Regions from separate parts of the Homo sapiens genome. Here regions 2 and 3 are each reported to be linked to region 1. The links are microRNA targets in miRTarBase. Many come from high-throughput screens and were not tested one by one. Region 1 holds a microRNA gene; each other region holds the end of a gene's coding sequence.

What was found. The annotated mature microRNA hsa-miR-1-5p reads ACAUACUUCUUUAUAUGCCCAU and lies in region 1 at 2,812-2,833, opposite strand. An mRNA with a match to its seed (bases 2 to 7 or 8) in the 3' UTR can be bound and repressed. Matches are read on the target gene's strand: a 7mer-m8 pairs with bases 2 to 8, a 7mer-A1 pairs with bases 2 to 7 and ends in A, and an 8mer does both.
Region 2: the mRNA of BDNF is a reported target of hsa-miR-1-5p. The part of its 3' UTR that is shown has no 7-base or 8-base seed match.
Region 3: miRTarBase lists LONRF1 as a target of hsa-miR-1-5p. Seed matches in the 3' UTR shown: 7mer-m8 at 804-810.

The regions. Positions count from the first base shown.
Region 1 is chr20:62,552,495-62,557,144 of GRCh38, reverse strand. MIR1-1 (microRNA 1-1) reads right to left here and starts at 2,839; the gene lies at 2,769-2,839. MIR1-1HG (MIR1-1 host gene) reads right to left here. Exons shown (of 4, transcript NR_171007.1): 2 at 3,480-3,680. RefSeq lists an enhancer at 1-425.
Region 2 is chr11:27,655,410-27,658,409 of GRCh38, reverse strand. It overlaps BDNF (brain derived neurotrophic factor), which reads left to right. Exons shown (of 2, transcript NM_001709.5): 2 at 1-3,000. The coding sequence ends at 589. BDNF-AS (BDNF antisense RNA) reads right to left here. Exons shown (of 7, transcript NR_033315.1): 4 at 1-169. Among named protein-coding and RNA genes, the nearest start is that of LINC00678, 22 kb to the right of the region's middle.
Region 3 is chr8:12,720,387-12,723,386 of GRCh38, reverse strand. LONRF1 (LON peptidase N-terminal domain and ring finger 1) reads left to right here. Exons shown (of 12, transcript NM_152271.5): 12 at 133-1,481. The coding sequence ends at 291. Among named protein-coding and RNA genes, the nearest start is that of MIR5692A2, 2.8 kb to the right of the region's middle.

The DNA of each region.
Region 1 (4,650 bases):
TGGCTGCAGAAATGCAAGACCACTCATCGTGACACACGCGTGCAGGCACAGCAGCGGGGCCGTCCCTTCCCAAAGACCGTCCTTCTCCTGCGTGCAAGCTCCAGGACCCAGAGCCGGTCTCACTCACGGGTGGAAACAGTGCCTGGAGCATAGCTAGCTTTTGTGAGCCATAGGATAGAAAAAGGTAACTAATTTGGTCCGCTGAATTTATGAGCTCCACAATTTCTGCAGCGGCTGTTTCCACGAGCGGGAGCCTGGCCCAGCCTCTGATCACCGTGGGGCAGTTTCCAGAGTGTTCTGGGAAACCCAGAAGCCTACACCTGGTGCTACCTGCTCTAGGGAGTGAGAGACACCGGCACTGGCCACCTCCTCATGGCCACACAAACCCACCTGGGTTCCCGAGCTGGCAGGCGAGGGGGTGGGTGTCCCATGTCCAGCCCCCTCAGCCCAGTCCAGGCTCATTTCCCTCTGAGAGTCCCGGCCCCCATGGTAGCGTGCCTAAGCCGTCTCAGGAGAGTCCCTGCGGGCAAGACATAGCCAGTGAGGGTCTGTGCCCCCGCCCTGCCTGCTCTCCCCTCCTTCAAACGGACAGGCACAAAGACCCCCACAGGGGAAAGTCCCAGCGTGTCCATGCCCCACGCCAGTTTGGGGTTCCCGTCCTGGCTGCTGCCCGGGAGCCAAGCTTTAGAGATTCACGCATGGGAGACTCCAGCCCCGGGTCCCAGTGTCTCCAGGAAAGCAGCAGGATCCCCAGGGAGCACCATCAGGCCACACGTGCAGGGGAGAGGGGCTCGGGCTGCCATGGGCGGTGTCCGTGCAATGCTCATTTTTAATTCAGCAGATCAGAGACTGGAGGTGATTTACCGCCAAGCAGGCCGCAGCTCTCTCCCTGTGAACTCTCCAGTTTTACTGCTCAGTCAAACCTAATTCCAAAACACTAATGCTTTTATTTAAACACCACATCCTGCAATAAAGCTTTAATGTACAACAGCCGCATCTAGGGGAAAAGAACGGTGTGTCTGTGGCCACCGGCAGCCTCGGTGGCCACACGCCCGGCTACTTCCCTCCCTGTGGCCGGAGCTGGGAGCAGGCAGGGAAGAGATGACGTCAGCGGATGCTGGGCACTGACCCTCCGGGTCCAGAGGCCGAGAGGAGGCTGTGCCCGAGGTCAACACCCGCCCCCTTGCTGCTACGCCAGATGGGGCTGAGGCTGGGAGAACGAAGTTTCCAGAAGGAAGACCTGAAGGCCAGGAGCCCTGACTGCCAGGCCCTCCCCTCCAGTCACCTCGAGGCTCCCTGAGGGGTGGGAGCCACCTGAAAGCTCAGAACGGCCCCCAATCCCTTTATCCAGCGCTCCCTATGCTGGCCCCAGCTGCTCAGGTGACCTGGCTGCCCCCAGACCCAAGGCCTCCAGCCGCTGCAGGAGGGGGCTGCCTGCCTGTCCCTTCCCGCCTCATTCCTGCCGAAGGCCAGGGTGCGGGAGGTAGGGCACAGGGGCACCGCTGTGGCTGGAGCAGTGCCAAGGCAGAGAGGACACACACCCCAGAAATTAATCCTGAGGCCTGTGGCAGGGTGGGGGTGCCCAGGCAGGGACCTGGCCTCATCCCAGGTGGCAAACGCCTCCAATCTGAGACTCAGAAACGAGCCGGGCAAACGCCCCTCACACAGCAGCCCAGCCGCTGCCTAAGACCCCAGAACCCGCCGCCCATCCTCTCCTTGAAGGACCAGCACTGGGGAAAAGGGTTTCACGGACGGATCCGGACCTGCCCTCATCCCCTGGGCCCCAGGACATCCTCCCAGTCCTTTCTCGGGTCAGGACTGGGATGGCGGCAGAGCAGATGGCTCTCAGGCCCCCGACAGGTGGGGCAAGGGGCCCTGGGCCACACGCTGCTTTCTGCCAAAGCCTCACCTGCATTCACAGCAAAACATGCCTCAGGTTGGATTCGGCGGAACAGAGAGAAAGCTGAACCGGGGCTTTGGTGGGGGTACAGGTTGGGGCGGCATGAACCAGACATTTGGCAAAATCGAACGGCTCCCAGGCCCCTGGGGTGGGCTGTGGGTTCAGGGCTGCACAGACTCAGCTCCTCTGACCCTGTCCCAGGTGCCCTCGGCAGAGGAGTGGGGCCTAAGGGCAGTGGTGGCCCTGACCCTGCCCGCGTCCCCAGCATCTCGTGTGGGCTGCGCCTTCCTTGGAGGCTACATGCCTCCGAGTTCCTCTGCCTTGCCCTACAGCCGGGAGGGCTGGATGCAGGTGCAGGAGGTGCCTTCCCTCCGCAGACTCTACCATGTGCTGCCCAGCCTCTCCCTCCTTTCTGCATCCAGCCACCTGCCCTTTTCCAAACTCGCTCTTGTCTTGTGCCTCTGAGCAGTTTCTGCCCTGGCCACACGTGGCCCTTTCTGCCGGCTGATGGCCTCTTCCAGGATGGCCATCAGTGGAGCCCCCAGAGCCGCCGCCACCACTCCGTGCTTTCCAGCCACGGCCCCGACCCCCCAGCCCTCACCAGCCCCGCGCTGGACCCCGCGCCTGCCGGAGGCCGCCTCCCCTCTGCCGCAGTCAGCAAGCTGAATATTTAATGTCTGGTGAGCACTTCCACCTGCTGACACAGGCAAAGTGACAGAACAATGCTGGCGGGGACACGACCGTCCACCAACGCCCAGGCAGCCTGCCGCCCCAGCCTCACCCCCACCACAGCCGCCTGGCTGGCTGTCGGCCGCGGCGGCCCCCGTGGTGTGGAGTGCCCCTCAGTGCGGCGAGAGAGGTCCCGGCCTGAGATACATACTTCTTTACATTCCATAGCTTAGCAGGTCCATATGGGCATATAAAGAAGTATGTTTCCCAAGCAGGCAGTCTGCATGCAGTTCCAAGACCCCGGGACGCCGCCCCGGTAGAAGCTGACCCCACTGCGATGTAGAGAAGGCAGCTCAGAGGCAGTGTAACTTCTTCCCTGGAGTCTACTGCCGGAGCCCTCTCTGTGTGAGCAGGACAGCCTTCCTGCCACTGCTGCCTGGTGTCCAGCCACCCCCAGGGGCCCAGGACTCCCTGCCCCCTTCTGACCTCGGCGCCCCTCCATCCCTGAATCCATCTCTCTCTGTCTGTCTCACACACTCACACGATCCAGAAAGGCAGAAGTGGACAGTGAGCCCCAGAAAGTCTCGAGCGCCTGTCCCTGGCCCCAGCAGTAGCTCGGTTTTGCGTCCATGGAAGAGACAGGCTGCCCCTCCACCCTCACCCCAGAGCAGGGAGGCATCATCCATGTCCCAAACTTTCAAAGCCAACACTTTCCTGTCCCCCTGGGTCACCTCATCCCAGCCAAGCCCAGAGAGGGCTGGGTGGAGAGAGGAACCTTGGGGGGCGCCCTGCCCAGCACCCCACTCGCAGGACCAGCCTCCTCCTTCTCCGGGAGCTGGACAACTCCTTGCTCCTGAGGCCAGACGAGGAACTGCAGACCAGAGACCCGAGAGGTGTCCTGGGGGCTTACCTGGGCATCTGCTGGTTTCCTGGGCAGGTCCCTGGTGAAGGCTGCCTCCCGGGACCCCGTATCCATGAGGAAGGGCTCAGCACCTCTCTCCGAAGATGCAGGCGAGAAAGACGATGCTTGGAGGAGTCCAGGTTCCCAGAGGGTGGTCAGGATCTCCTGAGAGGCCGTCCACTAGGGGGGCAACTCCCTAGGTGCCTCAGCCTGGCCACAGCAGACACCCAGTGGGCGAGGGAGCGTCGCTCCCCCGGTTCTCTCCCTCCTTCTCTCGCTCTTCTTCACCCTCTCCCCCGTCCCCGCCTCGCAGCGTCACCACCCTGAACCGCCGCGCAGTGCGGCCCACCTGAAGCGGCAGCTGCGCAGAGCCAGCAGCTTACATGGGCACCGGGGGTCAGCAGCCACCGTCACCTGCCCAGCGCCACTGCCGTGGCACCCCCGGGAGGCTGGTCCCACACCTGGCTCTTTGTGGCCAGCCGCCCAGCCTCCACCAGCCCCTGATCAATACCAATTTACAGTCAAATGCAGGGGGCCGCCTTCCTGTTAATGAATTTCCCGGTGCTCACCAGCTCCTAATGAGCCTGTTAAAGAGGGTTTAAGTAAACTTAGCGAGTGGCAAACTAAGCACTTTGGAATACTTAATTGTATCGATATGTTTTTCATTGCGTTTAAAAATGTCTCTGAGTGGGAAGCAGAGGCTGCCTCCTTCCCTGCCAACTTCTATGACCAGCCGTGAAGCCAGACTCTGAAAAATGTGGAGAAAGAGCCAGAAGGAGACCAATGGGACCTCAAGGTTAGGCCCTCACCAGCAGGAAGGGAAGCCGCCCCGAACCTGCTGGGAGCGGGGAGAGGAGGAGGAGGAGGAGGAGGAGGCCTGCAGGGTTTCGAGGCCTCGCAGTGGCCCAGGGCGAGCCTGGCACGTGCGGTGGTGAGAGGTGGAAAGAAGGCTTTGCAGGTGCCTGGGGGGGACGGGGGCCAGGGAGGCGCCAGTTGGGGGTGCAGGCCGGGCACAGACACAGGAGGCTTGCTAAGCGGTGGGGTCCAGCTGGGCCCTGGCCCCTGTCCTGCCACTGACCCTGGCGTGGGGTGGGACAGCAGCCCCGGGACATGAAAGGACCTCCCGTTGTCCTCATCAGGAAGAGAGGTCCAACATGACTCTGTTGCTCCTCCAGGCAGC
Region 2 (3,000 bases), not on the chromosome of region 1:
TTCAAGAGGCTTGACATCATTGGCTGACACTTTCGAACACGTGATAGAAGAGCTGTTGGATGAGGACCAGAAAGTTCGGCCCAATGAAGAAAACAATAAGGACGCAGACTTGTACACGTCCAGGGTGATGCTCAGTAGTCAAGTGCCTTTGGAGCCTCCTCTTCTCTTTCTGCTGGAGGAATACAAAAATTACCTAGATGCTGCAAACATGTCCATGAGGGTCCGGCGCCACTCTGACCCTGCCCGCCGAGGGGAGCTGAGCGTGTGTGACAGTATTAGTGAGTGGGTAACGGCGGCAGACAAAAAGACTGCAGTGGACATGTCGGGCGGGACGGTCACAGTCCTTGAAAAGGTCCCTGTATCAAAAGGCCAACTGAAGCAATACTTCTACGAGACCAAGTGCAATCCCATGGGTTACACAAAAGAAGGCTGCAGGGGCATAGACAAAAGGCATTGGAACTCCCAGTGCCGAACTACCCAGTCGTACGTGCGGGCCCTTACCATGGATAGCAAAAAGAGAATTGGCTGGCGATTCATAAGGATAGACACTTCTTGTGTATGTACATTGACCATTAAAAGGGGAAGATAGTGGATTTATGTTGTATAGATTAGATTATATTGAGACAAAAATTATCTATTTGTATATATACATAACAGGGTAAATTATTCAGTTAAGAAAAAAATAATTTTATGAACTGCATGTATAAATGAAGTTTATACAGTACAGTGGTTCTACAATCTATTTATTGGACATGTCCATGACCAGAAGGGAAACAGTCATTTGCGCACAACTTAAAAAGTCTGCATTACATTCCTTGATAATGTTGTGGTTTGTTGCCGTTGCCAAGAACTGAAAACATAAAAAGTTAAAAAAAATAATAAATTGCATGCTGCTTTAATTGTGAATTGATAATAAACTGTCCTCTTTCAGAAAACAGAAAAAAAACACACACACACACAACAAAAATTTGAACCAAAACATTCCGTTTACATTTTAGACAGTAAGTATCTTCGTTCTTGTTAGTACTATATCTGTTTTACTGCTTTTAACTTCTGATAGCGTTGGAATTAAAACAATGTCAAGGTGCTGTTGTCATTGCTTTACTGGCTTAGGGGATGGGGGATGGGGGGTATATTTTTGTTTGTTTTGTGTTTTTTTTTCGTTTGTTTGTTTTGTTTTTTAGTTCCCACAGGGAGTAGAGATGGGGAAAGAATTCCTACAATATATATTCTGGCTGATAAAAGATACATTTGTATGTTGTGAAGATGTTTGCAATATCGATCAGATGACTAGAAAGTGAATAAAAATTAAGGCAACTGAACAAAAAAATGCTCACACTCCACATCCCGTGATGCACCTCCCAGGCCCCGCTCATTCTTTGGGCGTTGGTCAGAGTAAGCTGCTTTTGACGGAAGGACCTATGTTTGCTCAGAACACATTCTTTCCCCCCCTCCCCCTCTGGTCTCCTCTTTGTTTTGTTTTAAGGAAGAAAAATCAGTTGCGCGTTCTGAAATATTTTACCACTGCTGTGAACAAGTGAACACATTGTGTCACATCATGACACTCGTATAAGCATGGAGAACAGTGATTTTTTTTTAGAACAGAAAACAACAAAAAATAACCCCAAAATGAAGATTATTTTTTATGAGGAGTGAACATTTGGGTAAATCATGGCTAAGCTTAAAAAAAACTCATGGTGAGGCTTAACAATGTCTTGTAAGCAAAAGGTAGAGCCCTGTATCAACCCAGAAACACCTAGATCAGAACAGGAATCCACATTGCCAGTGACATGAGACTGAACAGCCAAATGGAGGCTATGTGGAGTTGGCATTGCATTTACCGGCAGTGCGGGAGGAATTTCTGAGTGGCCATCCCAAGGTCTAGGTGGAGGTGGGGCATGGTATTTGAGACATTCCAAAACGAAGGCCTCTGAAGGACCCTTCAGAGGTGGCTCTGGAATGACATGTGTCAAGCTGCTTGGACCTCGTGCTTTAAGTGCCTACATTATCTAACTGTGCTCAAGAGGTTCTCGACTGGAGGACCACACTCAAGCCGACTTATGCCCACCATCCCACCTCTGGATAATTTTGCATAAAATTGGATTAGCCTGGAGCAGGTTGGGAGCCAAATGTGGCATTTGTGATCATGAGATTGATGCAATGAGATAGAAGATGTTTGCTACCTGAACACTTATTGCTTTGAAACTAGACTTGAGGAAACCAGGGTTTATCTTTTGAGAACTTTTGGTAAGGGAAAAGGGAACAGGAAAAGAAACCCCAAACTCAGGCCGAATGATCAAGGGGACCCATAGGAAATCTTGTCCAGAGACAAGACTTCGGGAAGGTGTCTGGACATTCAGAACACCAAGACTTGAAGGTGCCTTGCTCAATGGAAGAGGCCAGGACAGAGCTGACAAAATTTTGCTCCCCAGTGAAGGCCACAGCAACCTTCTGCCCATCCTGTCTGTTCATGGAGAGGGTCCCTGCCTCACCTCTGCCATTTTGGGTTAGGAGAAGTCAAGTTGGGAGCCTGAAATAGTGGTTCTTGGAAAAATGGATCCCCAGTGAAAACTAGAGCTCTAAGCCCATTCAGCCCATTTCACACCTGAAAATGTTAGTGATCACCACTTGGACCAGCATCCTTAAGTATCAGAAAGCCCCAAGCAATTGCTGCATCTTAGTAGGGTGAGGGATAAGCAAAAGAGGATGTTCACCATAACCCAGGAATGAAGATACCATCAGCAAAGAATTTCAATTTGTTCAGTCTTTCATTTAGAGCTAGTCTTTCACAGTACCATCTGAATACCTCTTTGAAAGAAGGAAGACTTTACGTAGTGTAGATTTGTTTTGTGTTGTTTGAAAATATTATCTTTGTAATTATTTTTAATATGTAAGGAATGCTTGGAATATCTGCTGTATGTCAACTTTATGCAGCTTCCTTTTGAGGGACAAATTTAAAACAAACAACCCCCCATCACAAACTTAAAGGATTGCAAGGGC
Region 3 (3,000 bases), not on the chromosome of region 1:
TGTTAAGGACATTGGAGATAGCACCTGGCACATAGTACAAGTGCTCAATAAATAGTAATTTTTTGGTGGTTTGCTACTGTTGTTACATAAATCCTTGTTTTATTAATGCTATAAACTGTCCATTGTTTTTAGGCAGCCCCTAATGGACCTGCATGGTGTTGGTGGCTTCTTGCAGTTCTCCCTGTAGACCCACGATACCAGCTGTCGGTTTTGTCAATGAAGTCTTTGAAAGAACGGTTGACCAAGATACAGCATATACTGACCTATTTTTCTAGAGACCAATCTAAGTAACTAACTCTTTGGATCTCCCTTTAAAGTGACCCTAATCTGGCTGCATTGATGGCCAGATTGTCTGCTGCCTTTGCACATCTAGTGCTGGTTTCAGAAATTTAATGAAACTTTTCTTTTTCCTTCGACCTCCTGAATCATGTGGTTCTGCAAATGAATACCTTCAACTAGGATTTAGACCACTAAGAACTTGCACAGAAAAACACGCATTGAATGTGTGTCGAACCTCTACATTGTGAAGTTGCACTATGTACCATACTCTAAAATGAAATAAGAACTCTTTATGTCTGTGAGAGAGTGTGTGTGTGTGTGTGCGTGCGTGTGTGCTTGTGGGGGTTGGGTAGTGTGTGTGTATTTTCTCTGGCTTTAAAATTTTAAAACAAACAAACAAAAAAGCCATAGAGAGCAGAACTTGCCGAGGGTCATTTATTGCCCAAGTTTACAAGAGTAGCGATACAAGTTTTTGCAAATTGAATTTGCCTCAGATATATCTGTCCTAATGCTTATATTTGCACAAGTATGTAAAATATCGTGTTGAGGATCATTCTTTGTTGGAAACACTGCTCTTGCTGAACTGTCTTGACCATTGACTATGACACAGTTTCTTATTTATGTAAATACTTGCATCACAGTGGCCGACAGGCATTGGATGCAGAACCTAGAGCCAGTTTTCAGGAACAATTGTAAACCTGACATGGTACTGTGCATCTATTCATAAAACACTCAAAACTGTGAAAATATGGTTTACATTTAATTGTACATAAAGGTAAAGGGAGAACTCAATTCAGTACCAGTTAGTTTGTACATTTTAGGGGGCTTTTCACATTAACTGCCCATTTGTGTAATTTATAGTTTGACATGATGTGTTTGTTTTAAAAAAAAATGCATAGTATAAACCCATTAAGGATCTGGGAAAAGAGAAGAAGTTTAATATAGAACTAAGCTTTTAAAGTTTGTTTTTGTTTTTAATTCTGGTCTCGGTGCAAATGTTAGTTATGCCTTATTCATATCACAGTTAGATCACCATGCTGCAACATGGTTTATATTCATGCTGCCCTAGAAACTTTTGTAATTATTTGTTGCAAATTTGTGACTGTCCTTATTAACTTTCTTTTATGTAAGTAATTTGTAAAAGTTTCTTAAAATTTTTGCTTTTGCTTATTTAATTTTGAATAAAAGCTAAATTCCTAATACTTTTTCTTAAATTGTAGGTCAGTGTTATAAAAACAAGTCAGTAGAAGAACCAAACTGCATATGTTAAAGAACAGATGAGTTTTGCTTATGGTTTGGTGGCATTAGATATATGCTATGGTTTCCAAAAACTTTGGCCATTTTTATTTTTTGAGAAAAAAAAAGCAATTTATTGAGGGTTTAGGCCTCGGAACCATCCCTAAAGCACTATTTTTCAACCTTTTAAAAATCCATGTCCCTTTAGGGTAAGGCTAAAATTCTTTCTTTGATGCCTCACCATTTGAGACTTCTCTTGGTTACACAGACTGGACTGTTTCTGCCCCCAGTTCCTCAGCTAGGATTTTGCAAATGTCAGTCAATCATCTTTTTTTTTTTAGAGACAGGATCTTGCTCTATGGCCAAGGCTGGAATGCAGTAGCACAATCATAACTTGCTGCAGCCTCAAACTCCTGGGCTCAAGTGATTTTCCTGTCACAGGATCCTTGGGGTGGCACTTTGCCAGCCAGAAATGTCTGTGGCCGGTGGTGCCTTCTGCCTGAGTAATGCTCATGCCCACTGGGCTTGTTCTGGCCACTCAGCCTGGCAGGCCGTGCTTGGCTTTTGCTACCAGCCCAGATCCCCCACCTGCCAAGAGCGAACCAGGCACGGAGCAGCGAGGGGTGTGTGGGCAAGTGCATGCAGGGTCCAGACACTGCACACAGCCAGGCACACCAGCTGCTGTGTTGGGGTGGGCACCTTCATGCGAGGTTGCAGCTGGACCAGATGCACCACGTGGCTTCCACTGCAGGCACCCACATCTGGACAAGGGGAACACTGTGGCACCCAGAAGCTTGGAGATGCCAGGAACCACAGAGCTCCAAAGAGGGTGTCACAGCCCTGGCTTAGGCACCCTTTAGGTCTGGACTCCCCAAATAGCTGTAGCTCTTCTTGTCACCCACAATGTGGTGAGTTGGGGTGCAAGGGGGGTATGTGTTTCAGCCCTGTTTGTGTTATAGTTCTTTCAGTTTCACCATTTAGCAAGTCCTGAGTTCTTTCCCTGCATCCAGGAAGAATGAGGTGGACAGACAACTGGAAGGTGAGCAAGGCAGAGAGGAGCTTCACTGAGTGATAGAACAGCTCTCAGGAGACCCAAAGTGGGTAGCTCCTTTCTGCAGGCAGGTCTTCCTGATTTGAGTGTCCAGCTTTCAGTGGAGAGAAGACCCTCAGTGGGTAGCTCTTTTCCACAGGCAGGTCATCCCATAGAGTGTCCAGTTCTCAGCAGAGAAGAGACCTGAAGTGGGTAGCTGTTTTCCACAAGCAGGTCATCCAGAAGAGTCAAGGAGACTCACAATGGGTAGCTCCTTCCTGCAGCTGGTAGTCCTGAGGGTCTGTTTGAGTCTTACTGACTCTAGGGTTTTTATGGGCTCAGGAGGGGAAGTGTGTGCTGATCGGTCCATGGGCGGCCATGGGTGGGCTGGGGAAAAAGCTCCATATGTACTCACTCCAGGCAGTGGACTCCAGCTGGAACTGGCAGCTCAGGCC